Regions from separate parts of the Homo sapiens genome. Here all the other regions are reported to be linked to region 4. Evidence: microRNA targets listed by miRTarBase, many of them from high-throughput screens and not tested one by one. Region 4 holds a microRNA gene; each other region holds the end of a gene's coding sequence.

Evidence for each region. The annotated mature microRNA hsa-miR-3135b reads GGCUGGAGCGAGUGCAGUGGUG and lies in region 4 at 2,555-2,576, opposite strand. An mRNA with a match to its seed (bases 2 to 7 or 8) in the 3' UTR can be bound and repressed. Matches are read on the target gene's strand: a 7mer-m8 pairs with bases 2 to 8, a 7mer-A1 pairs with bases 2 to 7 and ends in A, and an 8mer does both.
Region 1: miRTarBase lists ANKRD36 as a target of hsa-miR-3135b. The part of its 3' UTR that is shown has no 7-base or 8-base seed match.
Region 2: miRTarBase lists SUPT16H as a target of hsa-miR-3135b. Seed matches in the 3' UTR shown: 7mer-m8 at 1,590-1,596.
Region 3: miRTarBase lists RFX7 as a target of hsa-miR-3135b. Seed matches in the 3' UTR shown: 7mer-A1 at 1,896-1,902.
Region 5: the mRNA of TDRD1 is a reported target of hsa-miR-3135b. Seed matches in the 3' UTR shown: 7mer-m8 at 3,029-3,035, 7mer-m8 at 1,043-1,049 and 7mer-m8 at 162-168.
Region 6: miRTarBase lists KRI1 as a target of hsa-miR-3135b. Seed matches in the 3' UTR shown: 7mer-m8 at 3,315-3,321.

What each region holds. Positions count from the first base shown.
Region 1 is chr2:97,249,397-97,254,396 of GRCh38, reverse strand. ANKRD36 (ankyrin repeat domain 36) reads right to left here. Exons shown (of 76, transcript NM_001354587.1): 74 at 4,752-4,845; 75 at 4,224-4,253. The coding sequence ends at 4,230. Among named protein-coding and RNA genes, the nearest start is that of ANKRD36, 140 kb to the right of the region's middle.
Region 2 is chr14:21,349,315-21,354,229 of GRCh38, reverse strand. It overlaps SUPT16H (SPT16 homolog, facilitates chromatin remodeling subunit), which reads left to right. Exons shown (of 26, transcript NM_007192.4): 24 at 398-527; 25 at 665-742; 26 at 1,412-2,754. The coding sequence ends at 1,557. RPGRIP1 (RPGR interacting protein 1) reads right to left here. Exons shown (of 25, transcript NM_020366.4): 25 at 2,929-3,126. The coding sequence ends at 3,014. Among named protein-coding and RNA genes, the nearest start is that of SUPT16H, 32 kb to the left of the region's middle. RefSeq lists an enhancer at 1,047-2,246 and a silencer at 4,879-4,915.
Region 3 is chr15:56,089,488-56,094,487 of GRCh38, forward strand. It overlaps RFX7 (regulatory factor X7), which reads right to left. Exons shown (of 10, transcript NM_022841.7): 10 at 1-5,000. The coding sequence ends at 3,858. Among named protein-coding and RNA genes, the nearest start is that of NEDD4, 98 kb to the left of the region's middle.
Region 4 is chr6:32,747,398-32,752,397 of GRCh38, forward strand. It overlaps MIR3135B (microRNA 3135b), which reads right to left and starts at 2,582; the gene lies at 2,515-2,582.
Region 5 is chr10:114,227,082-114,232,081 of GRCh38, reverse strand. TDRD1 (tudor domain containing 1) reads right to left here. Exons shown (of 25, transcript NM_001395205.1): 23 at 4,783-5,000; 24 at 4,126-4,172; 25 at 1-4,044. The coding sequence ends at 3,952. Among named protein-coding and RNA genes, the nearest start is that of VWA2, 9.7 kb to the left of the region's middle.
Region 6 is chr19:10,550,307-10,555,306 of GRCh38, forward strand. KRI1 (KRI1 homolog) reads right to left here. Exons shown (of 19, transcript NM_023008.5): 17 at 4,979-5,000; 18 at 4,781-4,879; 19 at 2,779-3,975. The coding sequence ends at 3,645. It overlaps ATG4D (autophagy related 4D cysteine peptidase), which reads left to right. Exons shown (of 10, transcript NM_032885.6): 7 at 1,591-1,669; 8 at 1,739-1,815; 9 at 1,899-2,018; 10 at 2,579-3,112. The coding sequence ends at 2,761. It overlaps MIR1238 (microRNA 1238), which reads left to right and starts at 1,816; the gene lies at 1,816-1,898. It also overlaps the pseudogene RNU7-140P. RefSeq lists enhancers at 3,774-3,943, 3,964-4,013, 4,044-4,123.

The DNA.
Region 1 (5,000 bases), not on the chromosome of region 4:
CAGCCAAGACATGGATCCACCTTCCTACTGCAGTATCTGAAAATCACTGTCTGTTCTATCCTCGGCCTGACCCTCTCTGGCATTCTCGGGATCTACATTTTGATGGAAATGTAATGCTCTGGAACCCTAGGCATATATGAACCAGAAACATGTATGCAGACTCTACTTACCGACAGCAACATAGTTGGAAATACAGTAATCACAGTTGGATAGGAACAAATATTTTATATCTCTTTCTTAGAGATCTGGATTCCACTAAAACGGATTCATGGATGTCAGGGCATTAGGGGTGTGGACTGATAACAAACCTCTCCTTTTTCAGTGCCAAACCAACTTAGAAATAAAAACAAAAGGTCAGATCAATATCCAAATACATTATTCCTCCTAAAGCTGATTTAGAAACTATGGCTTAATGTTGACCAAAAAAGACTTCTAATATTGCCCCCTAGCCTTGACTTTAGAACCTGAACAAAAAAAAGTTCATCTGAAGAACAGTCAGTTACCCACCCAGTGCAGGGAGGGTCTTCACCTGCCTTCCAAGTCTCCTGTTCAGAATCCAGAGGAGAAAGAGAGACTAGATGTACTCATTGATCACTGAGTAAGTTTGCCTTACTAATAGGCAAACGTGGACCAATGGATTTGATGGGACCAATGGATAAGATTTCCCATCCACCAAATAAGTCACATCTTCTCCTGGCTCTGGGAATGAGCCAGATAAAGGTGAAGAGTTGGCAGTGTTTCTACTCAATATTTGTGAGAAGACCGAAGGTGTTGTCAATGGGTAGATAGAACTGGAATGAGGTGGGAAAGTTTTACTCGTTTGACCAACTTCTTTTTATTCAAGTTGTATATGCTGAAGGTAGCCGCTAGAAGAATTGACTTCTGGAAAGATGATTCCCCTCACAATTGCTTGATCTTGAGTATTTTTATTTTTGTGTTAAAGAACTGATGTTGGTTTGTGTACACTGAAATAATGGGGGGAAGCTCTGTATGGAAGGAAAAGAAAGTTTCCTTTCTTTTCTAGAGCCGTCTGTTCAGGTTATCGGAGTCTCCCTATTCATGGGATGAGTGTCCACAACAAACTCCACAATCCTGTGTCTGCTCATTGAAGGTATGTATCAGAGTGACACTTGGAAGCATGGTATAAAGAGGAAATATGCATTTGTCAAATGAAAAATTAAAATATAAGAAAAAGTTTAAAAGGAAAAACAGAATGAGAAGGGCAGGGGCTTGATTAGAGTTTTGTCAACTGGGACAAACTTTGCAGTTTTAGTCAAATATTGCCATCTTTCTAGTGGAAGACTTTGACATGTAAGTTCTAGATTATACTTTCATTTATAAATAACTGTGTAGCTTAATGAGATGGCCCCTGTTAGTATCTTAGGCCATCTATTGAAGGTTTACTAAATTCTTCCAAGGCACGTGAGTCTGCTCCTCAGCAAAGCAGTGACAAACCTGCTTTTCCCTGGTTTCCCCAACTATGTAAAACCTTATTAAAGAATTCCTGAACAATATAAAGTTCCCTCAGCAAGACGGAACTTCCCAAGCTCTTGTCTCAGGAGAGAATGTGGATTATAGAAAGATTGTGGGTGTGAGTGGAGTGGGAAGTTATTTAGGTAGTAAGATTTTCAGGCTCGGTGCAGTGGCTCACACCTGTAATCCCAGCACTTTGGGTGGCCGAGGTGGGCAGATCACAAGGTCAGGAGATGGAGACCATCCTGGCTAACAGGGAGAAACTCCATCTCTACTAAAAATACAAAAAAAAACTAGCTGGGCACCTGTAGTCGCAGCTACTCGGGAGGTTGAGGCAGGAGAACCGCGTGAACCCAGAAGGCGGAGCTTGCAGTGAGCCAAGATCTCGCCACTGCACTGCAGCCTGGGTGACAGAGCCAGACTCCGTCTCAAAAAAAAAATAATAAAAAAATAAAAAGTTAAAGAGGCCAAGAAACATCATTTAAAACACGATATAAATTTTCATCAGACATAAAAGATAAAAAATATTTTCATTTAATAAATACTTTTGCATGTCACACATTTAACGGGAAACAAAATATCATGTTAACAGCCTAGTAATACAATTTTATTGTCTTAGATTTTTTTCGTCAGCATGTATTCTTTCTGTTTTGTTTTGCATTTGAGATGGAGTCACTCTGTTGCTCAGGCTGGAGTGCAGTGGCACGATCTTGGCTCACTGAAACCTCTGCCTCCCGGGTTCAAGTGATTCTCCCACCTCAGCCTCCCGAGTAGCTGAGACTACAGGCATGCACCACCACACCCAGCTAATTTTTGTATTTTTAGTAGAGACAGGATTTCACCATATTGGCCAGGCTGGTCTTGAACTCCTGACCTCAAGTGATCCACCTGCACTGGCCTCCCAAAGTGCTGAGAATACAGGCATGAGCCACTGCAGCCAGACAGCACATATTCTTGTTATGCTTTTAAAACTAGTTATTGATTTAAATTTTACTCATTAGTAGATTCTAGTGCAGAAGCTATAGAGCAGCAGTCCCCAGCCTTTTTGGCACCAGGCAGCAGTTTTGTGAAAGATAATTTTTCCACAGATGGGGGTTTGGGGGATGGTTTCAGGATGGTGATTCAAGCGTATTACATCTATTGTGCACTTTATTCCTATTATGACTACATTGTAATACATAATGAAATAATTACACAACTCATCATAATGGAGAATCAATGGGAGTCCTGAGCTTGTTTTTCTGTAACTAGATGGTCCCATCGTGAAGAGATAGGAGACAATGACATATCATCAGGCATTAGAGTCTCATAAGGAGCATGTGACCTAGATCCCTTGAACGAGCAGTTCACAGTAGGATTTTCACTCCTGTGAGAATCTAATGGCTTTGCTGATCTGACAGGAGGCAGAGCTCAGGTGATAATGTGAGCAACAGGGAGTGGCTGGAAATACAGATGAAGCTTCACTCGCTTGCCTGCCACTCACCTCCTGCTGTGCAGCCTGCTTCCTAACAGGTCATGGAACTGTGTGTGGCCTGGGAGTTGGGGACCCCTGCTATAGAGGATTCAGATTTAAATTCAGAAGTTAGAATGAAAAAGAATTATATTCTTTATCTAAATGATTTCACAGTTAACTAAGAGAAAGTCAGTATATGCTGAAAAGCTTATCAGTGTTAATAAGAATGAAAAATATGTACAATATGCAATTACTATTAAATATAATTTGCCCATAGTTGCACACCGAATTCATTATCATGGCAGTTAAGTATCAGAGCTTCTGGTTTCTCACTCTTCGTTCATGTATTCAGCAACCATGTGCTAAGGTACTAGGACAAGCACTGGAATTACAAGATAAAGATGATACGGTCCGCCCCTCAACAACTGTATGCTATAATCTGAAAAAACAAACAGGCAATTCCCATACAGAGTCATACATACAATGACAAGCATAAGACAGCACTTATTGGAAGACATAGAAGGGATACTAGCCCAGGTTTGTGTCAATATTGTAGGCTTTTTGGTAGAGGCAATTCATAGGTTGATATCTGAAGGGGAAGGAAAACACATGTAGGATAGAGGGAAGAAGTAAATGCAAACAGCTGGAGGTGAAGACGATCACTGTGGAGCTCCATGTAGTCTAGTTTGGCTGGATGCTAGAACAAAGGTGTAGAGTATGGTAAGTGGCGAAAGATAAGGCTGAATAACTTGACAAGAACCACACTGATGTGAGAGTTTTGATTCCATGCTAAGGAATTTTCAACTTTTCCCAGGGGCAAAAGTAAACCAATGACAAAGTCAATGACTAGAGATTTAAAATGTCACTGGTCAAGTGACTGCTTGTGACCTGTAATTGCTTAACTAATTATTATCACATGAGTGTGGGGTCTGTTAGCCTTAAATCACTACCTTAACCTTGAGAAGTTGATAATGCCTTTGTTTTGTGAGAACAGTTTCAGTGTGCAGGCTGATAGTCTATAGGGGTGGCAGAAGAAAAGTGTAGGGCCAGAAAAAAAGGGATACACAGATTTCTTGCGATTTTTTTAAAGCTATGAAACATGATGAATTAACAAAGCATAAGTATACCCTTCACTATGAATGTTTATGTTTTCACATCTTTCACTAGATGTGTGTAAGAAAAAATATTTAATGTAGCATTTATTAACCAAGCAATTGAGAGGGAATACCGTTCACTACTTAGAGTTTATTTCAGAAATCAATGATTTGAATTTAATTCATAAATTTTGGCAACATACCTTCATCTAGCTCTCAAACACCTGCAGCATCTGAAATAAATCAAATATTACTTATAATGTTTCAGTCAAACAAGAGACATTATCATGTAAACCCACTGTAAGTCAAGGAGCATCTGTACTGTAGATTGATCATCCCTAATCTAAAAATCTGAAATCCAAAATGCTCTACAATCTGAAACTTTTTGAGCACGGACATGACACCACAACTGCAACGTTCCACACCTGACCTCATGTGACAGGCTCTGGGGAAAACAGTAAAAACTTTCTTACCTGCAAAAAATTACTGTAAAACATTGTAGAGAATTACCTTCAGGCTATGTGCATAAGGTATATATGAAACACAAATGAATTTCATGTTTAGACTCAGGTACCATCCGCAAGATATTTCATTAGGTATATACAAATATTCCAAAATCTGAAAAAAATCTACTTTTGGTCCCAAGCATTTTGGACAAGGGATATTTAACCCATCCTACTGGAAAAATAAAATTCCTTTTCAGTATGACAGAAATTAAGAGATCAGCTTACCAAACTTGAATGCTGCAGGATTTTCTCAAGCCGCTCAATTTGGTCATCCTGTTTTTTAATAATTTTTCTCATCATCACATGTTCTACTTCAAGCCTAAAATGTGCATTTTAAAATAATTACTCTCACACGTAATTTTTTTTAAATCATGTAAATTCTAAACAAACTTCTGAAGGTATAATTACACAAATTCTTAGCAATCACAAAAGTAGACGATTGGGCTACTGTGTCATTTTCTACCTGTGTTTTGG
Region 2 (4,915 bases), not on the chromosome of region 4:
CAAGATTTCTTGGAAATTACAAAAACTTTTCCTCAATGAGTTTCTTAGCATTTAGGGAAAAATCCTTCAGGGCATTTTGCAAAAATTATTTTTTAAAAAATGATCCACTTAACGTTTGTGTGATACGTAAATACAGAAAGTCTTTCTGTTGTTAATTTCCCTGGGTGAGGAAGGCTAACGTGAATTTTTCAGAAATGTAATAATACATAATAATAGTAAAATAATAATTGCACCTGACCACTAATTTTAAACAAGTCATTTTATCTCTTGATCCCTCAGATTATTTTGCTCTTGTTTTCTTCATGTAAATACTGGTATACTATGTGGGCTGAATTAATTCATTAAGTTAATAAGGTAAATGTCAAAAAAAAATCAGTATTATGCTCTAACTCACCAGGGGAGTGATGCTGAAGAAGGGGATTCAGAGTCTGAAATTGAAGATGAGACTTTTAATCCTTCAGAAGATGACTATGAAGAGGAAGAGGAGGACAGTGATGAAGATTATTCATCAGAAGCAGAAGAGTCAGGTTAGTCTTACAGAGCAAAGTTCGTCCTGGCTTCCTAATCTAATGTCATTTCTGAAAACTACTTTTTTTAGACTAAGAACTCTGTCGTTCCATTCTGTTCCCGCATGATGACTAACGCTTAATTAATTTTCTTCCAGACTATTCTAAGGAGTCATTGGGTAGTGAAGAAGAGAGTGGAAAGGATTGGGATGAACTGGAGGAAGAAGCCCGAAAAGGTTTTTAAAAATGTGTTGTTTTTTATTCATTTGTCTACGCACAAATTTCTAACACATTTCAATATTTTGAGGTGTTAGTATTGATGGCGTAATGAAAGTAACAAAAGAACACTATAAAAGTGCTTTGGAGCCACAGATACAACTTCATTGACTGAAGGAGAAAATGAGGTGTGGAATGTGTCCATACTCTCCAGTGGGCAGTGCTCTGCCAAACTGGATGCTGTTTTCATCTGCGCAAGCCCCCATCTTTCCTATAGCCATGATAGCCACATATTCATGTAATACTCAAGAATTAGCCTACTCAGTTTCCAAACCTAAATCCTATAATACTTTAATTTTCTAGGCTTCTTCCAGGTTAGGCATGTCTTTATAATGCTAATCTAGTTACTCTGAAGCCAAACCCCAAACAAACGTTTTAAAGCTTAAAAGGAAATAAATATTAACTGCTGTGTTCCAAGCATTGGGAATAGGTAGTTTTCATAGGTTACCTTATTTAACCCTTAAATAATTCTCCCTTTTGTAAATAAACCAAGGTTCAGAAAGTACTTGCCCAATATTAAAACTTGGGTCTGATTCCAAAGTGTATTCTCTGTACTATCTCATGCTATCCAGTAATATTAGGTACCTAAAGCTTACCTATTGCTAACTAATAATGCCTCTTCTATTTAGCGGACCGAGAAAGTCGTTACGAGGAAGAAGAAGAACAAAGTCGAAGTATGAGCCGGAAGAGGAAGGCATCTGTGCACAGTTCGGGCCGTGGCTCTAACCGTGGTTCCAGACACAGCTCTGCACCCCCCAAGAAAAAGAGGAAGTAACTTCTGAACTTTGGCCCTGAGCTCCATTCTTCCTCCAGCCAACCCCTGAAAATTTTACATGACATAGAAACTGTATTTTTCCTTTCGTTTTCATTTGAAGTTTTGCCATTTGTGTTTATGGGTTTAGGGGGCCATTTGTGTGGACCAATCTACTCGGGGAATTCCAGGCCCACCAGGACACGTGCCAATGGCCCCATTCAGATGGCAAGGGAGGAGGTGTTCTTGAAGACAGGAGGAGGCTCCCGCTGTTAATAAATATTGTTTCATTCTTCTCTCTTCCTGTCACCTTCTGCCAAGACATTGATGGCTTCTGACATCTTATTTGGTGTCTCAAAGCTGTATTTCCAAGACAGTGGTACAAGGTGACCCTTAATTACCCGTATCATGGTTCTTGACCAGCACATTCAATCCTCCAACCTACCCTACTGCCATGACCTTCCGCACATCTCTAAGTTTTATCTTTGCAATACTCAAGGTTCTCGGAAATTTGCTAATGGTTGTGATAAACCATACAGCTTGAGCCAGTGAGGCAGATTGGGCTGGTGCCTTCGTCTGAGTTTTCCTGCTTTCCTGCCTCGTGCAGATTCTGAGGTATATCTGCTGCCTTGGAAGACATAAGAAGCAGTGATACTCCCTGGCTCGGTTATTTTCTCCATACAATGCACACATGGTACAATGATAGAAGGCAAAATTGCCACTGTCTTCTTTTTTTTCTCATATATCTAAGGAAGATATATCAGGTTGTGCCTCATGTACCGCTTCTAGTGAAATGTAGAGGAAGGCTCAAAGGAGTCAACATTTATATCTGGAAGGGACAAGTCATGCCTTGGGCCTAGAATACCCTGATGAGAAAAGAGAAGAGGAAGGGAGGCCATATCTACAACACAGCCTCTCGGCACTGCTGCTCCTTATTTTAACTTTGTCTTGCATTGTCCTGTATTTATCACAGTTTCTGTTGAACAGCTTTTCAAGTATTTGGGGAGTTTATCTTGCCATCCTCCCCTTCTGGTTCTCTGCACCCACCTGTCCCACTGCAGTTCCTTCCGTGCTCTGTGACTTTAAGAGAAGAAGGGGGGAGGGGTCCCGGATTTTATGTTTGTTTGTTTTTTCTCCTTAGCAGTAGGACTTGATATTTTCAATTTTGGAAGAACTAAAAGATGAATAAACTGGGTTTTTTTTGTTGTTTGTTTTTGTAAATTCACCTGTGACCGTTCATTTTCAGTTCTTGAAAGCAAGCCTGCTTCCTGCCTGGTAAAGTGCTAAGGTACTGGAGAAAAATGCCTTTAGCTAGCTAGTTTTACAAATGAAACTTTCATCATTCTAAACTTTCATCATTAGATTGAGAGACACTAGACATCACAGTAAACCAAATTCATGTTATAGCAAGCTAACTTTATAAGAGACTTTTTACTATGGTTCCCTCAGAGACTTTTAGATTGGAATAGCACTTGTTCCTTCATGAAAACAAATCTTCAGTCATCTCCTTGTAAATAGCATGGAGGACAGCAGCTGCTTGAAGGGAAACCTTCAGCCTTCCTATTGGGGTAGCCAGATCTTCAGGGCTAACAACTGTTGGGAAAGGGAAAAAAACAGCATCACTCAGTTGAACACTTTGATACTTGGTATTTGTCAGGTTAGGTACTGGGGATGCTAAATGAATGAAATTACCCATTTCATAAGAGGACTCAATCTAGTGAAGGAGAAAGGAAAATGGTATAGTGTATAGGTGCTATATAATAAATGGAAGCACAAGTTGCTTTGGGGACATAACGAGGCATCTGCACCAGAATGGACAAATTGGAAAGGATTTCTGGAGAAATCACCAGAAAAGTCTTAAGTGGATTTTCCCTGTGCACATACAAATGGCATGGAGGTCAGGAAGAACATAGCATGTTTAGGAATGGGGATAGGAGTGAGTTGGAAAATAGCCCACAAAGATAACGTCACTTGCCTTATGCCAGGCACTACCCTAAGCCCCTTAATCCCTTATTTAAGTGCTTCCTTAATCTTCACAACTCAGTAAGATAGAGACTGCTGTTATTCCCGTTTTATAGATGAGGAAAAAGACTAAGGATCACAGTTGGAAAGATACTAGAGGAATATAATTAGAATCTTATCTAACATTTGAACTTTGTAAACCTTAGGGTCTGAGGAGTATTCCTCAAAAAATGTTTATAATGATCAGTAAGAATAATTTTATACCATGATTCATTAAACAATACATAAAACAAGTTTCACAAGACAATATGTGCTATGTACTCTTAATTCCTGTTTTCTTTTTTTTTTTTTTTTTTTTGGAGACAGAGTCTTGTTCTGTCACCCAGGCTGGAGTGCGGTGACTTGATCTCAGCTCACTGCAACCTCCGCCTCCCGGGTTCAAGCAATTCTGCCTCATCCTTCCGAGTAGCTGGGATTACAGGTGTCCGCCGCCATGCCTGGCTAATTTTTTTTGTATTTTTAGTAGAGATGGGGTTTCACCATATTGGCCAGGCTGGTCTCGAACTCCTGACCTCAGGTGATCCGCCCATCTCGGCATCCCAAAGTGCTGGGATTACAGGCATGAGCCACCTCGCCTGGCCTTTAATTCCTGTTTTCTTTCCCACAGTTTTGGTTTGCATTTTTCAAATTTCCTTGTGATTTACTAATTCAGTTTCACATCCACTAATGGGGTGTGTGTCTGGAAGTTTGAAAAACATTGATCTAGTGGATAATCTTAAGTGTCTGAAGGTCCTAGCAGATAAGATAGGTGACATCCCAGCTATGTAAGGTAATGGGAACAGTGAAGACTGGACAGCGCAGTCCCAACTAAAGGTACTCAAATACAAATGTTTTTAAAACATGCTGATCTATAGCAAACTGTAAAAGGATTTAAGAAGAAGGCAGTGATCAAATGTATTATGTATTTACTATAGTAGATGGAAATGGGGTAGAAGAAACCGGTGGCAGGAAGACCAGTTTAGAAATTATATGGCTGGGCGCGGTGGCTCACGCCTGTAATCCCAGCACTTTGGGAGGCTGAGTGGAGGGCGAATCACATGAGGTTGGGAGTTCGAGACCAGCCTGACCAACATGAAGAAACCCCATCTCTACTAAATATACAAAATTAGCTGGGCGTGGTGGTTCATGCCTGTAATCCCAGCTACTAGGGAGGCTGAGGCAGGAAAATCGCTTGATTAAGAAAGAGGCAGAGGTTGTGGTGAGCTGAGATCGGTCCATTGCACTCCAGCCTGGGCAACAAGAGCAAGACTCCATCTCAAAAAAAAAAAAAAAAAAGAAAGAAATTATAGTAATTATATTTAAGGAGGCCGGGCGCAGTGGTTTATGCCTGTAATGCCAACACTTTGGGAGGCAAAAGAGG
Region 3 (5,000 bases), not on the chromosome of region 4:
GGTTTTCAATTACTTGAAACCAAAATCACCTCAGGTGTTACACAGTATTTTCACCCCCAGAATTTCTTACTGGTTGACTCTATGCACTGGTTCTTATGTTTGCCTGCTCTGACATTTTACCCTTCCATGTCATTGAGCACTGAGGATCCTAACATACTAATTTTATAGTATTATCTAGGTAGTTCATTACTTTCATTTTCTCTTGAGTGACTGATTGCCTTTCTTGGGATTAGTTTTTCTTCAAGTACTTTTGAATTTTGATCTGCAGGCTCAGCTTTCATGGGAGCCTTCCTGCTCTTTACCTCTCCCTTCCTAATCTCCACTCCTTTCCTTTTGTAATTGCTTCTACCACCTGTTCAAACTGAGGGCTCCAGATCTATGGTGATAGTGGAACTATCACAGATCTACAAAGATCTATGTAAACAGAGGAGTAGGCTGTTTGAGAAGATCTGTCTACAATATATAGTCCCTGGCACTGGTTGTTGTTGCTTCTCAGTTTCAAGAGTGAGGAAACTCCATTCAAGACCCTGGTTTCATTACTTTGCAGGAGCTGACATTTCTGGCTACTTCGGCCTGCTTCCAGACCTGTAGCCCAGCTTCTGGCTTACAAATTCATTACACTTATCAGTTTGTTATTTCTGGTACCTGGAAATGTCTATACTGCTTTTGAACACAGCTATGCTTAAAATTTTCTCATTTTCTATTCAGAGCTCCAGAAATATACTTACCTAGGTACTCCATAGGCTAACATTTAAACACTATGTGAAAGAGAAAAAGATGGCTTTTTGGACAACATAAAGTTCTATGCCATGCACCATTCATTGGTAATAATCTTAAGTGAACAACAGAGTTTTGATGAATGAACTAAGATCTGTGTATTCTTCTGGATTAATAGCACACAGCAGATCAGCAGCACTGTTCTGCCTTCTGCTCATTTTTATTCACTCCCTAAAGTTAATGACATCAAAGGAAGAATAACATTGGGTCTGTTTACAAAATGTGTTGCCTATATAAAATATGTCCCATAAAACACCTTCAGATCCAGTCAGTTTAATATAAAATGTTTTTAATTGTTTTTGAAAACATTTAAAAAACAATTTTTGAGCACTTTAATAAAAAAAGAGAACTGAAATGCTACCGCAATATTCAACTACTGTAGTTTCAGCAGGTACAACAGACAACAAAACACTGGGGAAATCTGACTTTTTGCACTAAATGAAACATGAAACAGGGCTTGTTTTTGTCATTTATCGTGTAGTAAAGCACATTATAGTACAAGACTATTATATGAACCTCAGAAGCACTGCACAAAAAAACACTTTCCTTCTTTTCAGTTCAAAAGTCAGTGCTTATTGCAATTATATGCAAAATTATTTACTTCATGAAGTTTTATGATAAACAGTATGCAAAATGTTTTAAACATCAAAACAATAAAAATAATCTGGAACAGAACATATTCAACAATAACTAAGCAGAATTAGTAAACATAAAGTAAATAACCTGTGAATAACTATGCTTGCCTGGTTAACACTGAACCAGTTTCAATACAGCGAAGAAAAAAAAGAGTGGTTACAGGAATCCTAGTACTGTACAAGATAAGTCAATAACACTCATGCACATTTTGTGATCATGTATTAACATGGTGAAGCAAACTAAACTTAATTCTTCCTGCTGTAATATTCTCATGTAAGAGAATAATAGAAATATCTCATTGAGATCAATGCACATTGCTACATAAGACAATTTTATCTGTCACTTTGATGACATTTTGTCTTTTCATAATGAAACACATTTAAAAAGTTTAATCTGTGGACTGTATTGGTTGCATTTATCCTAAGAGATGTGCCTACCACAGGTTCAACAAATTTAGTGCAATATATGAACCCCAGAAAGTTTGCTGGACGAATTCAACCAAATTTAAAGAGTTTGCTGCAATACTGTACAAGGGGTTAAAAATCCTCCAGTCTTAATATTTTTATCAAAAAAGATTTCCATTATTTTTATATTAGTAGGAAGCTAATAATGTAAACAAGGGATTAGAATGGCCTCAAAATCTCCTTTTCAGAGTATCTCATAAAGAAAGGCTCCCATCATTTGTCAGGAGAAATCACACAGTTTCCTTTGGGTATTGCATACTTTGGTGTGCAGTAGTGCTGTGTCTCAATGTACAGTGAAGAAATAACTAGCATCAAGAAAAAAATACCTAACAAATCATGAAATCAAGATAACAGCAAACACACACAAATGCCAATAACTAAGACATATCAATATATAAACCTCTGCGCCAACTCTAGCACCATTTATTTATCAAAATATGTTAATACCCTACCTTGCAAATTTATTGAACAACAAAACCTTATTAAACCCTTCAGCACATTTGCTAAATATTCATTGATTGTAGTCTTCTGATTGGCTTACTAAGGTAAAGGAAAGCTTAGCTAGGTTCAAGGTAGCATAGCAAATGGTTTTATGTTAGCTTTAAAAACAATGGCAATTTAAAAATCTCTTTGAAAGTGATCTTGAAACTCACTTAAATGGAGCTTTCAACCAGTGAGTAGGTTTGTGTCAACATGCAACTCATAAATAATTATTCACAAAACAAAATGGGAGCCATAGAGAGAAACATTTTAAAACAAATCCTGAGTTCTTCTTTTGCAATTGTGGTTATCACAATAAATAAATTAAGCAAGTAATAAAATGCTCTTCTTCTTCAAGTACTATTGATATCCCCTTTGTTTCATCAGAGATATAAAGATTTGTGGCTTCAGACCTTAGGTGGTGAAATGTTTTTTGTTGTTTTTTATGTTATCCTCCTTCCTGTTTTTCAAAGGGATCCTATGATCAAACTACATTACTATATTCAGGAGGAGTGAGGGAGTCAGTCACTCAATTGAAGAGGAAAAAAACTGATTATTGTGGAATATTTTAATGAAAAATTTCAAAGTAAATCTCAGTTAGAATCTCAATATGTACATGCAGCCATTGTGATGAAACTAAGAGAATGCTTTTGTTTTCCTTCTCATTCCCCTAACTTAACAAATAATAAGACATAAAGCATTTTTCTAACATGCTTGTATTTATTATATTAAATTACAAATGCCTGGAGTTACATTTGCTTGTTTTGTGTGTGCGTGCCTGCGCATCTATGTGTGCTAGCTCCATATTAAAATCAACATTTAAATATTAATGCAAGGTCACAAATATAAATGGCTACTTGTTTTTTTTCCCTTAAAAATTTTAGTGCAGCTTTGCTTTCCTTAAAGTAATATTTAATTTTCCATTATTTTCTATTTAAGCCCTTCATCGTGGGTGTAAATGGTACTGAAGCCCCAGAAAGTCCTACAGAGATTTTTCACCCTACAGTAGCTCTATGCTTCAAGCCTAAATATTTATAATAACCTGAATATTATCCCTGTTTCAAGGAAGACTTTCTTGTCTACAGTTCACCCTAGCTATGATTTTATATCTAAAAGATAATGCCAACAACAAAACAGCCTATACCTAAAATTGATGGTTTATTCTGAGTTCTGTGCAGATCATCTGATGAAATGAAACTAACTTACACAAAATAAAGATCGACTGCTCTTGTAACAGCTGGATAGTCAATCAATGTGAATAAATGGGGCACATTATAAAATTTAAAACCTAATACTTGTTCTTCTACAGCCTACTGTCTTTAGACACTTGTTAAGAACTGAGGCAAGTCTAACCATTTCCTACTGAAGAAACCACTTCTGCAGCAAACGCTTTTAAAATGTCACAATTAATAGTATTTCTGCTGCGGGAGGCACTTCCATTAAGACAAATACAATACATATGTCTTTAGATACAGTGTGCTACATGTTATAAAACACAATTTAACCCAACATTTCAACAGTAGGATGGTCCTTGCTTTCTATCCATTCAAAACCTGATGAAGTCATAGAATTCATGGATTCACTGCAAATTTGTTGAAATAATGGGTCATTCTTTAATTCTTCCAGTGTAGCTTCATCATCTTGTCCCTGCTGACGACCTGGATCAAACAGTAGATTTGGGTCTAAAGTGTTCAAATCATTGATGCTGCCTGAGAGCTCAGAAGACAACCTGATATCGCTAGAGAAATCAGATGCAGTATTAGTGAGATCAGATGCTCCCTGACCTACCAGCTGCTGGTTGGTTTGCAAGCTGTCTCCACTCAACAGGTCTTTAACAGTGCTATTGAAATCTAATTGTTGCTCTCCAATTTCTGATTGTGCTTGATTATCTCCAGGAGAAAAATTGATCTGACCGGTGCTATTACTTTTGGTGAGGTAAGATGGTGTTTGGAACTCATAAACAGAAGTGCTGGAATCGATCATATTTTGTGGGTTGGCACTAGGAAAAACAGTGGAAGGTTCCAAAATCTGAGTGAGATTCATCCGGGCTGTATAATTAGAGGGCAGGTTGTTCATTCCCAAACCTCTCACTGCATCATCATTGTCGGAATCAAGTTTACTCAACAAAACATTGGTTATTTTTTTACTGTTTGCTTGCTTCTGAAGAGCGTTTGGGAAGGCTGTCTGCATCATGACTGTCAATGGAACTGATTGGCTTCTTTGAGCTATGTTGTTGGCACATGCGTCTGTGTGAACATTTGTGAAAACATGAACTTCTGGGGTAACTGGACTTCCAAAGGGGGTCACATTAGATCGTGGGATATTAGATACTGGATAGAGGGTGCTTCCACTAAGATTACGTTGGCGATGAACAGCAGGGCTCACACTCCGGCATCTGAAGTTGCTGCTGGCAGATGAATTAGTTCCTTTATTATCAAGAGGGGCAGGGACTGCAAAACCCTCCTGTTTGTTGGTGTTATTTACAGTGGCACCTTGATGCTGCACAGGAGAGACAGGAGTCAAACGACCAAAATGAGTGTCATGATGTCTGGATTGAGACTGATAAGACTGTCCAGGCACAGCAAAAGCATGAGGTTTCCTGAAACGGTCTTCCACTAGTTCCTGATAGCTTGGGAGAATACC
Region 4 (5,000 bases):
CTAGGCAGGAAAAGAAATGGAAGCCAGTTAGAAAAACATTGAAATAAGGCCAGGCACGGTGGCTCACACCTATAATCCCAACACTTTGGGAGGCCAAAGTGGGCAGATCACTTGTGGTCAGGACTTCGAGACCAGCCTGGCCAACGTGGTTACACCCTGTCTCTACTAAAAATACAAAAATTAGCTGGGCATGGTGCTGGGCACCTGTAATCCCAGCTACTCAGGAGGCTGAAGCAGGAAAATCGCTTGAACCTGGGAGGTGGAGGTTGCAATAAGATTGTGCCACTGCACTCCAGCCTGGGCAACAGAATGAAACTCCATCTCAAAAATAAATAAATACATATAAATAAATTTTTTAAAAAAGAAAAATATTAAAATAAGGCAATAATATAAGGGGGTATCTGAAAAGGAACAAATGCTTGTTCCTTACTTAGGGTTAGTGACAATGGAAAACAGATAGAAGTAGAAGCTACAGACCCATTTAGGGGCCCCAGCCCCCTGCTCCTCCCCCTTCCTGGCTAAGGAAAGCATGAGCCTATGAGAGAGAAATCCTAGGAAGAACAAGACAGTTGAGACAATGTAGCAGCAGTAGTGGGTGCTGTGTCCTACACTGGATTCGTGGTCTCCTAATAGAAAATCTCTCAGAGGAAATGGGTCCACAGGGACCTGAGAGCTCTAAACAGCTATGAAATCTGCCAGGATATTTCTGTCCATGCTATCTGCATCAGTGAGTTTAAAATGTAATAGGAGAAAAAAAAGAGACAAAACATTAACATAATAATTGATACAGCATAGTTTTGTACAAAGAAACCTAAATCCAAATACTTGACTCAGTATTTTGAAGCTAGTATTTTAAACTTTACTGGGTAAAGTATCTGATTGACATTTCTGAACCTTATTTTTCTCATCCACAATGTGGGAGTGATAATATTTTCCTTGCAGAGTTATTGACAGAATTTGAATAATCTTGGTATATAGACAGTGCCTTACACGTAGTATATAAATATATAAGAAAACACTGCAGTTATGTTTATAATGGATTTATTAAAAAGAATGGATCATATTATATGAAAAGTACATTTGTTTTCCTTAGCCCTTTAGTGATTTAGGAGATTCAAGCGTAGACGTAAAAGTGAGTTTCTTTTCATATGTTAACTGGAGGATTTTTTTCTTTCTTGAGAGGCTGAGATTGGGTTGCTAAGAGAACTCTTAGGACAAGAAGTTGTAATATTTGACTTCGGTTTTTAACTCTCTAAGGGGTATATTCCCTCCTTATGTCCCATAAATTTTAAGTCAAGGTGAATTATATGCAACAGCAGTTTATCCATATTTACTTTGGGGAGGAGGTGGGGAGACTCCGGGAGAAAATAATTATAAATGCAGACTGGGAATTAGTAAGTGCAGGGAATCTGAACCAGTGGTGATCATGAAAACGTCCATCACAGAACACAGAGGATTTTTAGGGCAATGAAACTACTCTATTTGATACCACAATGGTGAATAAATATCATTATGCGCTTGCCCAAATCCATAGAATGTACAACACCAAGAATGAACCTTAATATAAACTATGGACTTTGGGTGATAATGATGTGTCAGTGTAAGTTCATAAGTTGTAGCAAATGTACCTCTGTCATGAAGGATGTTACTAGTGGGGGAGGCTATGCATGTGTGGGAACAGAGAGCATATGGGATACATCTATCTGTACTCTACAATTTTTCTGGGAACCTAAAACTTCTCTAAAATAAACTCTATTAAAAAAAAAGAAAAGAAAAGGTCAACAATAATGATCCCAAATATATAAAATTAAAACTGTAGTATAAAAATGGTCACATGAAAATGCATGAATGTGCTAAGAACTTTTCTGCAATAGGATTTAAAATAAATTTTATATAAATTTCAATGATTCATGAGCCAAGAACCCAGCATTCTGGAGGTGTGTGCATTTGTGTGTGTGTGTGTGTGTGTGTGTGTGTGTGTGTGTGTGTAAGGCTTACATTGAATGGCATTATAACCAGAGTCATACAGAAATACACAAATGCTCCCCTATTTAGAATCCTTCCCCAAGAAATACTGAGGAAAGCAAATATAATGGTAGTTGGATTTTACTGAAAGAATGTATTCAAAAAGTATTTATATAATGTTAAAATAGCATAGCTAAAATTAGTTTTATAAAATAGAGCAAATATATCTTTTTATCAGCTAAAAGTTCAAAGTGAAATCATCATTATTATATTATTATATTATTATTATAAACAGTTATAAATCAGGCTGCATGATTTTAAATTAAATGATTCTTAAAAATTGTTATCTGAATTATTTCAGATTACATACATAAAGTATGACTTCATTAATAGGTAATATCACATTGTTTAAATTTTACAAAATTTCCAGTCACAATGGTTCATGCCTGTAATCTCAGCACAAGGTGAGGGTCCCTTAAAGCCCAGGAGATGGAGACCAGTCTGTAGTCCCAGCTAGTAGGGAGGCTGAGGCAGGAGGATTGCTGCTTGAGCCCAGGAGTTCGAGGCTGCAGTGAGCTAGGACTGACTGCACCACTGCACTCGCTCCAGCCTGGGCAACACAGCGAGACCCCGTCTCTAAAAATAAATAAATAAATGAATAAATAAATAAAAATTACAAAACGTAAAAATCACGTAAAATATTTCAGGTTTGTACTTACCACATACAAACTAGAGATATGAAGAATTAAACATTACAAATAAAGCACTTCACACACAGTCTGGCCCATAGTAAGCAGTTTATAGAAGTTAACAAATTTGTGTTATTGTTATTTTCTGGAGTCCAAGACAAAATCCCATGATGAATGACACCACAAGGATGTAAGCAACAAAATTCAGAATATGAGAAGTTCTACTAGATTAAATAAAAAGATTTCTCCAGCAAACAATTTGCAAAAAAAGTTAAAAATAGAGAAAAGAAAAGCTATACACTTGAAAAAGACTGAAGAAATATAGTAACCAAACGCTGAGCTTTGTCTAGATTCATATTCAAACAAAACATCTGTTAAAAAATTTATATGAGGCAATCAGAAAAATTGACACTGAGTGTATTAAGGAATTATTTATCTCGTTTTAAATGTGTTAGTGGCATTGCTGTTATGTTTCTAAAAAGCCATTATATTTTAGATTTTCATAATAAAAATGTATAAATGAAATATGATACCTAAAAATATCTTCAAAATAATCCAGTATGTGCCTGTATGATAACTGGGTGGGTTTACAAAATTGCTCATGAATTGATTATTGTTAAAGCAAGGCTGTTGATACATGGAATTCTTCTCTGTACTATTGCACACAGTTGAAATTTTCTGTAATACAAAGGTTTTTTTTTTAAATGTATTCAGGAAAGTCCCATAAACATAGGCAGACAAGCATTCTGTTTGAAGTTATGTTAGTTTTTCAGTTTTTCTCATTTTTATCACATTTAGGAAACCCTGTCCAAGGCCTGCCCAAGACTGTAAGAACCTCTCAGGAATGCAACTATAAAGAATGTGTATGCAGGAACTAATAATAACAAAGGAAAGCAAAGTAATGCTTGCTTTATTATTGGCTGGACTAAGCCCCCAGACTTGTTTATATATTCACTAATTCATCAAAAATGCAAAAATGGTCATTGAGTACCAGTGCTACAATAAGTACTCATAGTTTGTTGAATGTTATTAAAATAATGTGAAAACAATTACATTCATTATCTTCATAGAACTTACACTCCAGTGGGAGGAAAATACATATATTACATAATTCCACAAACATAGTTACAAGGTCTGAAACATTTATAAAGAAAAAGAATGAGGTAAAATGAGAGAGTGTTGCACAGGGACCAGGTATGGTTTGGGGCAGTTTAGAAGTGGCTTGAAGAAATGTATCTTGAGATGAAATAAGGTGGTATACAGTAGGTAAAGGACAAGGTTGAAGAGGCCAGAGCAAATGTTTGAGAAACTCTTACAATATGAAAGAGAAGATGAGAATAAAATAACATGAAAATTATCACAGATTTAATAGAGAAAGTTCATGTAACAGCAAACAAGTTTAAAGTCATTCTAATTAGAATTCTTGATCTGTAAAAGTAATAATAGAATGCTAAAAACAATTGGAAAATTTAATAGAAAGATTGGAAAATTAAATCAAGAAAATCTCACAGTAATTTAAAAGGCAAAAAAAAAATGTAATATATGGTAGAAAAAATAAGATGGAGAACAGACCAAGGAAGTCAAACATCAAGTGACAAAGCTAGAGAGACCAACAGGGAAGATGAAGGGAGAAAATGATCAGAACAAATAATAAGGGAAAATGTTCCAGATATAAAGGATTTAATTCTTCCATGGAATAGTCTTGTCAGGTATTTAGCAAAATTAACAGACTCACTTCTAAATATCTCATTTTCAAAATTTCAGAACTTCAGGTGTTATAGAAAAGTCATAAAATATTCCAGTGGCGGAAACCAAAATGAAACAAACTGACAACAAAAAAAATACTTCTATTATTAAGATAATGAGAAAGTCCTTGAAGTTCTAAAGGAAAATTATTTTTTATTAATAAATGTAGATCTTTTCAAAGTCACAATCAGGCATGGAGAAAGAATAAAAATACCTGTGAATGTGAAAGAACATAAAATTTACCTACCACGCAGAGTTTTACTAGAAATTGACTAAGGATATGACCAATTGAGATTGTTAATCAGGATATAGGAAGGTAAGGAATCCAGGAAACTGGGTCTAACCCAGGATCTCACTGAAAACGGATCCTACTACAGCAGTTTCTTGGCAAGCAAAGAATACCTGACTACATAAGTGATATTTAGAAAGTGATAAACTTTTTTTTTTCAAATTTAGAATTAATCTGTGAGCAAAGCCCAAGGAATCTTATTGCTACAGCAGAATGTCAATATTTTCAGCTTTGACAATATTGGGGGGAAAAAAAAGATGTAGATACTTCATTATGGCAACTGGAAGTGTAAAGGAGAGGGGAAAGGGAGG
Region 5 (5,000 bases), not on the chromosome of region 4:
AACAGAAAAAGAAGATAACAAACATGAAAGCAAAGGACATTATGTGGAAGAGGCAGACGACAGAGAATGCAGGGAATATTACAAAATATTTCAAACGGACAGAAAATAAAACTCATATCAACTTTTTTTTTTTTTTTTTTAAGACAAAATCTGTCACCCAGGCTGGAGTGCAGTGGCACTATCATAGCTCACTGTAACCTTGAACTCCTGGCCTCAAGGGATCCTCCCACCTCAGCCTCCCAAAGTGCTGGGCGTGAGCCACTGCACCTGGCCTTCCTTCGGTACCTTTAAGTAATAAAAAGTTACATATATAGCAGAAAGTCCCTATGTATTCCTTGCCAGTATTCTCATTGATTTGGTATGAATTTTTTACGTAATATTTATTTGGTGGAAGGAACTTAGAGGAAAATAAAAACCACCAACCTAATAGGAGAATGGCAGGCAGGCAAAAACGGAGGGATAGAAGGTCATTACAGAGAAAGTGGACAAAGAAAAGGTTCTCATAAATAAAAACACCAGGTGCTGTACTTTCTCTCCTAAAGCTAGCCTTTGCTGTTTCCTGTCTCATAAGGGTTTACCTCCAAGAGATGCTGTTTCTGAAAAAGAAAAAAAATCAACTATCATTATGCCTTACACAAAAACTCAATTGCTATGGCTTTTAATTTCAAATACAAGCAAACAAAATATTCACTTTTAACTGAAATTACGCATTTAAGCCAGACCTGTCAGTTAAGAAAATTAATGACCACCATAACATAGCATAATATATGCTAAGTACAGCTGTTTATACTCCCCTTCACAAATATAACATATAGTTGTTTGCACTCTCCTTATATATAAAAGATATCTGACATTAACTTGTGTGTTGAAACATCACCTGAGCAACAGATTACAGAGGGTTTTATGTTCATATCACCACAGCACTTCTGTTTTAGCAATTTTACAATTAAATTGCTAACAATTAAATTTCTCCAGATGATGAAATACATGTGTTTGTCTTTTATTTTATTTTTTTGAGACAGGGTCTCACTCTGTTGCCCAAGCTGGAGTGCAGTGGTGCCATCTCGGCTCACTGCAACCTTCGGCTCCTGGGTTCAAGCAATTCTCCTGCCTCAGCCTCCCCAGTAGCTGGGACTACAGGTGCACGCCACCTCACCTGGCTAATTCTATATTTTTTTTGGTAGAGACAAAGTTTCACCATGTTGGCCAGGATGGTCTCAAACTCCTGGGCCTCATGTGACCTGCCCTCCTCAGCCTCCCAAAAGTGCTGGGATTACAGGCCTGAGCCACCATGCCCAGCCAAAATACATTTTTACACCCATTCTATCTCAAAGAATAATTTAAAGGAGTAAATATTCAGCTCTATTTTCACCACAATGAAGTAATGCTTAAGCAATCATGTACATTATTTTTTCCTAATAATGTAACCCTCTAGTTTCATGCCCTATGTAACTGATCTGATCTAAAAGGATACTGTACACGTAGCAGCTCAGGGAAGTTGACACAACTGTTTTAAGTCGTAAGACCTAGTGTTTCAGCCTGTATGTGATTTTGGACAGTCATGTAACCCTCTCTGAGCCTCAGCTTCCTTAACTGTAAAATGGGTCCTACTTTCTTTTCAAGGGCATTGTGAAGATTAAGTATGTGAGTAGATGTAAAAATGCTTTGTAAATACGTACTACCCAAACACAAGGTATTGCACTGTATTCAAATGTAAATAAAATATCTATTTATTCCCACAGTCAGGAAAAATCCAGTTCAACTACTATGCTTTAAATCAAGTTTTCTTTTGAAAGCTACTAAGCCCTGTCTTAAATCTATCAAGAAACAATGAAATTTCACTTTAAGTTTTATGTGTAAGCACACTCAATATCCTTAGGAAAAATGCCTGTTACACAGATAAGAAGAACATACAGGCCAACCAACTTGGTTAAAAATGTAATGACTTGGTGGCCGGGCGCAGTGGCTCACGCCTGTAATCCCAGCACTTTGGGAGGCCGAGGAGGGCAGATCACGAGGTCAGGAGATCGAGACCATCCTGGCTAACACGGTGAAACCCTGTCTCTACTAAAAATACAAAAAGATTAGCTGGGTGTGGTGGCGGGCACCTATAGTCCCAGCTACTTGGGAAGCTGAGGCAGGAGAATGGCATGAACCCGGGAGGCGGAGGTTGTAGTGAGCTGAGATAGCGCCACTGCACTCCAGCCTGGACAACAGAGCGAGACTGTCTCAAAAAAAAATAAAAATAAAAAATAAAAAAAAAATATATATATATATAGTGACTTGATACTAGGACTAAATTCCAGAAATCCATGTCATTGCATGTTCCTTGATCTATGAAATTAAAATCACCATTAAGTTTAAGATTAGCCGGGTGTGGCAGTGTGCGCCTGTAGTCCCAGCTACTTGGGAGGCTGATGTGGGAGAATTGCGTGAACCTGGGAGGTGGAGCTTGCAGTGAGCCGAGATCACGCCATTGCACTCCAGCCTGGGTGACAGAGCAAGACTCCGTCTCCAAAAAAAAAAAAAAAAAAGATTAAAAGATTTTAAGCTTAAACATACAAAACAGTCAGTATTAAGACAATGTATTAGAAAGGACTGAAAGTTGTAATAACCCAAAATTTGTAAAAGGAAACATGAGAGTCAAGATAGTTGATCTTGCATTAATTACATTTAGCTTATAATTCAATTGACCTTTCTTAAAACGCAAAGAAACGGTCTATTACCACATGAAAGATATGTTTTAACACAGTTGGCAGTTGGTTCCTACTTGAGAGTTACTACACCCATAAAAGATTCATGAAGAGTATTATAGCCACCTCTTGAACTATTTCCAAACAGTTTAATATAAATTTGTTAACCAACAAAAGTGCACATATTAAGTAAATCAAAGTTCCTTTGCTTTTGGCTGGAACTGTAACAACTCAAAGTGGTGAGGAGAGACAACTTTATTCTGAGATTAGAGGTTGTTTTTTTTTTTGTTTTGTTTTGTTTTGTTTTTGAGACAAACTCTCACTCTGTCACCCAGGCTGGAGTATAATAGCAGTCTTGGCTCACTGCAACCGCCGCCTCCTGGATTCAAGCGATTCTCCTGTCTCAGCCTCCCAAGTAGCTGGGTTAACAGGTGTGCACCACCATGCCCAGCTAATTTTGTATTTTAAGTAGAGGCAGTGTTTCGCCATCTTGGCCAGGCTGACTTCGAACGCCTGGGCTCAGGTGATCTGCCCGCCTCAGCCTCCCAAAGTGCTGGGATTACAGGCGTGAGCCACCACCCCCAGCCCTGATCAGAAGTTCTAATTGGCTCTTAATCAAAAATTTATTTCTGAGAACCATCTTACAACAAAGGATCCCAGACATTTAAAATATGGGGGTGGGGTGGGGAGGAACACTGGTTTAAAACTCACCAGTATGTTCTTTAGACACTAGAATCACCACAGCCAAAAGCAGGGAGTATGTTTTGTTTTTAAATGAAAAATACCCTCAGTGCAGCCCACTTTCCGTTCTTGGCCCTTTAGATCCACTTTCCGTTCTTGGCCCTTTAGATACCCCTCGCAAAAAGTGCTAAACATATTTACAGCAATGTGCATAAGTGAGCTCTGAGTTAATTTCAGATCTAGACAAAAAATCTGAGGCTAAGCTTTATGTCACAACAAGTTTTACAAGTCCCTCCACATATCAATAACATAGGCATTCACAGAACCAAACAACAGTAAGGAAAGGCTATTACAACTGGAATACCCCTGGGGGTTCAGTTCCATTAGCAGTAGCAAAGGAAAACGATCAGATAAACCTACAAAAACAGCAGAAGCATTATGACCAAACCTCAGGTCATTAAATCACGAAAGTACAGCCTTACAATAGGTTTCACTCCATTAGCTCTATCCTGCCAATATGCCTGAAGATGTCCTATTGGTGATCACAGAAGAGGCGAAAACATACGATTTAACTTACTTAACTTTTTAACAGTTTTTTCATTTCAATAAATTTATTTTGATTGGTTGAATTGTTTAAGAGGAAGAGAAGAATATGTTCATGTTTTTCAACCTGTGGGTGAAAAAGAAACCATATGATTTAATTTCTAAAAACGTTAGGAGTATAATTTCACTTAAAGGAAATTTTACCTACTTGTTTCTGTAACTCTGTGCAGCAGCAATTCATCCTATACATCTTTTCTAAAAGCACAAGAAAAATAAGCCATTAGATAACACATAATGTAAAGAAGAAAAACTTGGGAGTGTAAACATATACAGATAGCTCTCCCCCTTGCGCATGGGTTCCGACTACAAAGACCTGGATGGATCCATTTGGGCTTTGAGATTATCTACTACCATGGTCTGGATTTGACCACATTAACAACCCATGTCTCCAAGGTTTTGGTTGTCAATCATCTCTCTTTTTGATTGAGGCCAGGTCTGTCAAATATACATCTTATGAAGTACCAGGAAGATGGAATCTCAAAAATATGACTTCTCAGTTTGATCAGGATAGAAAGTAAATTGGAAATAAGAAGCACGCAGAATGCCTGGCATTTTCAAAGCTCTTGGTGTCAATTCCCACAGCAGTGCTGACAAGTCTGATCTAAGGACTATCTGGACTCGGAGGACTGCCTCCATCAAGGCGGCCCTCCCAGGCAGCCACAGGAATCAGAACCCTGCCACTGGATTTGTGGAGGAGGAGGAGAGAGTATGGCATGGGAAGTGAGAAAAGGTCAAGTCAACTAAATTGATTATCTGTTATTCCTCACACTTAACATCTGTTATTAATAACACTTGAAAAGAATACCTGTATTTAAAGCACTCTGCCTTTGAGGTGTGATGTTTTTTGCCAGACCAAATGTCACTAGCTTATCAGCTACATCGACAGTCCCATTCTCAGAACATTTCTCAACTGACACTGTATGGACATTCTTTGTAATTCCTTTCACAGAAAGCATTACATTCTGATTCAACATGAAATTTTTTAATAGCATTATTATTAATTGAGAAGAGCTTCCATTCAAT
Region 6 (5,000 bases), not on the chromosome of region 4:
CTCTACACAACTTTAAAAAAACAGTAACCCAATGAAGGGCAGATGAGGGTAGCAGCAGAGCCTAGAAAAGCGCCTCTGCAGCCACCAGGCAAATGAGGAGCCAGAGGAGAAGTGCTCCAGGCAAAAGGAACAGCAAGACAGAGACCCTGAGGCTGGAAAGTCCCCTATGTATTTGCATCCGAATAAAAGCCAGTTTTCCCAGTGACCCACAGAGCCCGGCACTATTTGTCCACACCACCTTCTTGATGTCGGGATATCCCCCACCTTGACCTCATATCCTCCTCCCACACTCTGCTGCAGCCACAGGGGCCTCCTCACCTATTTCAGACACTCCCACCTCAGGGCCTTTGCGCTTGCTGCCCCTGCTGCTTGGAGCACTCTTTCAGCAGTGATGCATGTGGCTTTTTTTTTTTTTTTTTTTTTGAGACGGAGTCTTGCTCTGTCACTCAGGCTGGAGTGCAGTGGCATGATCTCAGCTCACTGCAAGCTCCACCTCCTGGGTTCATGCCATTCTCCTGCCTCAGCCTCCCGAGTAGCTGGGACTACAGGCGTCCGCCACCACTCCTGGCTAATTTTTGTATTTTTAATGGAGATGGGGTTTCATTGTGTTAATCAGGATGGTCTCGATCTCCTGACCTCGTGATCCTCCCGCTTCGGCCTCCCAAAGTACTGAGATTATGGACATGAGCCACTGCTTGGCTCCTGTTTTAAAATATTTTTTGCGTGGGGGGTTTTCCAGTGAGAACCAGAAAACCTGAGACAAATTCTAAAAGAGCTGTAATGTTTGACCTCTTTACTTAAAATCACAAGGCTCCCTTCCCTCTTTTATTCTTTTCCATATAGTTATCACCTCTAACACATGAGATAAATCATGTAATTGGCTGGGCGTGGTGGCCCACGCCTGTAATCCCAGCACTTTGGGAGGCAGGTGGATCACCTGAGGTCAGGAGTCCAAGACCAGTCTGGCCAACATGGTGAAACCTCGTCTCTACTAAAAATACAAAAATTAGCTGGGCGTGGTGGCGGGCGCCTGTAATCCCAGCTGCTCGGGAGGCTGAGGCAGGAGAACTGCTTGAACCCAGGAGATGGAGGTTTCGGTGAGCCAAGATCGTGCTACTGCACTCCAGCCTGTAATCCCAGCACTTTAGGAGGCCGAGACGGGCAGATCACCTGAGGTTAGGAGGAGTTCCAGACCAGCCTGGCTAACATGGTGAAACCCCATTTTTACTAAAAATACAAAAAATTAACCCGGGTGTGGTGGCGGGTGCCTGTAATCCCAGCTACTTGAGAAGCTGAGGCAGGAGAATCGCTTGAACTTAGGAGGCGGAGGTTGCGGTGAGCCAATTGGGCCACTGCACTCCAGGCTGGGTGACAGAGTGAGACTCCGTCTCAAAAAAAAAAAAAAAAAAAAAATTCATGTAATCATCTTCCTTGTTAGTCTCTCACACTAGGATGTCAGCTCCTGAGGGCAAGGGTTTTGTGGTCTTGATCACTGCTGCCCTCCAGAGGCTGGGTTCTCACAGAGGAGGTGTTTGCCAAGCGTTTGTTGAGTGGCTGCCTGACAGCACCTGCCTACCCTCCTCCCTGCAGGAACTCCTGCGTTGCGAGCTGTGCCTGGGCATCATGGGTGGGAAACCGCGACACTCACTGTACTTCATTGGCTACCAAGGTAGGCCCACCCCCTCCTCACTCCTCCCACCCCCCACCGCACCCCCACTCACACCTGCACCCCCTGCAGATGACTTCCTGCTGTACCTGGACCCTCACTACTGCCAGCCCACTGTGGATGTCAGCCAGGCCGACTTCCCCCTGGAGGTGAGTGGGAGCCCCAGTGTGTGGTTGGGGCCATGGCGGGTGGGCAGCCCAGCCTCTGAGCCTTCCTCGTCTGTCTGCCCCAGTCCTTCCACTGCACCTCGCCCCGCAAGATGGCCTTTGCCAAGATGGACCCAAGCTGTACCGTGGGCTTCTATGCTGGAGACAGGAAGGAGTTTGAGACACTCTGCTCAGAGCTGACCAGGGTGAGCAAGAGGAAAGCTGGAGTGGGGTGAGGGGGGCGGTTGGGCAGGGCTGGGGGTGAAAGAGGAACAGAGGCCTCGAGTCCAGCAGAGCTGGGGTGCTGCTTCCAGGCTAGGGGTCCTAACCTGGGAAATGTGAAGAATGTCCACCCCTGAAAAGGTGGGAACGCCAAAGCCCACTGTTAAGGCATCATCCCTTGGAGGCAGCTGTATCCAGGGGCTCAAGTGGTGGGAACCCTCCCTGTCTCTTGGCCCTGCTGTCCGACCAGGACTCTACCCTTATGGGGGCGAGAGATGGCCACCAGCCATTCTGGGCACCCACCCTGTGGTCACTGGAAGGGAAACGCAGGTTTTGCAGCAAAAATCCCAGGACTGTCAGTCTTTGGCTGAGCTGGGTCACATGCTCATGGCTGAGCCAATCACTGTGGCCAGGGGATGGAAGGTGCTGATTGGCTGCTCTCTCCTGGAGAGGTGGTCCTGAGAAGCACCTACTAAATAAACCTGGGCTAAGGAATATGGCTTGGCACTGTTTGTGGCTGACCCTGTCTCCCTCTTCCCGCCAGGTCCTCAGCTCCTCCTCAGCCACAGAGCGGTACCCCATGTTCACCCTGGCCGAGGGCCATGCTCAGGACCACAGCCTGGACGACCTCTGCTCCCAGCTCGCCCAGCCCACACTCCGGCTCCCTCGCACAGGGCGGCTCCTCAGGGCCAAACGCCCCAGCTCTGAGGACTTTGTGTTTTTATAAAGGGAGGGGATGAGGGGAAAGATACAACACTATTTATTTTTTTATTTATGTCATGTCGGGTGTGGGATCTTGAGCTCTGGCAGTGATGATGGTACTTCCTGTTGTCAGCCCCTCAAGCCCAGCTGCAACCAGTCTGGGGCCATTCAGCCAGGGACAGAGCCCACAGAGCCCATACACCTGTCTCCCACCAGCGGGGCCCTCCTGGCAGGGTAGGGAAGGAGGACCCCGGGCACCCCCCTCAGGGCCTGACTCACGTACTGTAGTTTGCACTGGACGCCCGGGCCCTCCCTGTCCCAAAGCCCCCTTGGGGGAACTGTGGCTGCTGGGGGCCAATAAAGCTGTGTAACTTGATCGTGGGTGTGGCTGGGCGCAGCGTTCTGAGGGGATGTGGGGTCTGGGAGGTGTCTCGAGGTGAGAGCTCCAAGTCACGGGAAGTTTAAGTCAGCCTCAGTTTCCACATCCATAAAATGGGACGACTTCCTTACCCACAGCTACACGTGTTTTTTAATTTTTTTTTTTTTTTCAAGAGACAGGGTCTTGCTTTGTTGCCCAGGCTGGAGTGCAGTGGTGCAATCATAGCTCTCTGTAGCCTCAAACTCATGGCCTTAAGTGATCTTCCTTCCCCAGCCTCCTGAGTAGCTGGGACTACAGGCATGTGTCACCACATTTTGTAGAGATGGAGTCTCGCTAAGTTGCCCACGCTGGTCTCCAATTCCTGGGCTCAAGTGATCCTTTCACCTCGGCCTCCCAAAGTGCTGGGATTACAGGCGTGCCTGGCCACAGATGAGAGGATCTCTGCAGCAGATAGTACTTGTGGGTGCGAGACCTGTCCAGGGCTTGATTTGAGGAGAGGAGCCTGAGGCCCCTGCCTGCTCCCTGGTGCTCAGGAGCTGTTCTTGGGCCCCTGTTGTTTCCTCCGCTGCCGGCCCAGCTGGCGGAAGTGCAGCCGTTTGGGGTTGAGGCCAAAGGCCTGCAGTCTCTGGCGGCTGAACTCGCATCCACCAAGCATCACAGTGGGGCCCAGCAGCCGTGCCTTCTTGGCCCTCCTCCGCTTCTGGGGGGCTGGCTTCTTGTGGGGTGATACAGGGGCTTCCTCTTCCTGTGCTGGGGGACTCTCCGGCCCCATCAAGCTGCCATCAAGGGCTGGCAGCTGCCTCTGTGGGCCGGCTTCATCTCTCTGTGGCTTCCCTGTGGCTTCCGCAGGTGTCTCTGCCCTGAGGGAGAAAAGTCAGGGCTCAGCCCAGGCCTGTCAAGATCAGGCCCATTCTTGAGCACGCATGCCCCATTTTACAGACAGGGAAAGGAGGGGCATAGTGAAGCAGCCGCACAGCGACCGAGGGCCTGCCTGGGATTCAGACCTGGGTTTCAGGCCAAAGCCAGCGCTTTTCTACGGAACCCAAAGACTAGATTGTGAGGCTGAGGATTCTGGTATTTGTGCCTGGGCCTGCCCTAAGCTAGTCACATCAATTAACTCATTTTAGCCTTTTTCTTCCTTAGAGACAAGGTCTTGCTGTGTCGCCCAGGCTGGAGTGCAGTCGCGTTACCATAGGTCACTGCAGCCTCCAACTCCTGGGCTCAAGCGATCTTCTCGCTTGAGTCTCCCAAAGTGCTGGGATTATAGGTTGGAGCACACACCTGGCCTCATTTTAGCTCTAAATAAACTGTGTGCATCTATCACCCCTGCCTTCTAGACTGGGCGAAAGCAATCCTAATAACAGCTAAGACCTATGGGGCATTTACCATATCTTAATCACTTTACGAGAATTAACTCATTTCATCCTCTGCAACTTGATAAGGCAGAACCGTCTCTATCTCCATCTTATGAGAAAGAGGCCCAGAGAGGGGTAGCGACTTGCCCAAGGTCACACAACGTTGGTGCCCATATAGGATTCGAACCCAGGTCTCAGAGCGGGGGGCGCTGCATTCCCAAAGTCATGCAACAAGAGGTTGACGGAGCCAAGACTCAAGCCTGGGCCTGACAGGCTCCCCACCCACGCTTCCCCAGCCAGCACTGCTTACTCTTCTCGGCAGAGTGACTTGAAGACCTGCCGCTTTTTCCATGAGTTCTGGGCCTTCTGGCTGTACGCCCGCTTGTCCCGCAGCTCCTCCTGCTCTGACCTGCAGACAGATGCCCCTGTGTTGGGTGCTCTGGGAAGTGCCCGAGGCTGCCCGCCCTGCCCCCTGCGCATGTGGCCCCGCCGCGCCCCGCCCCATCACCTGTACATGCAGGTCTTCTTTA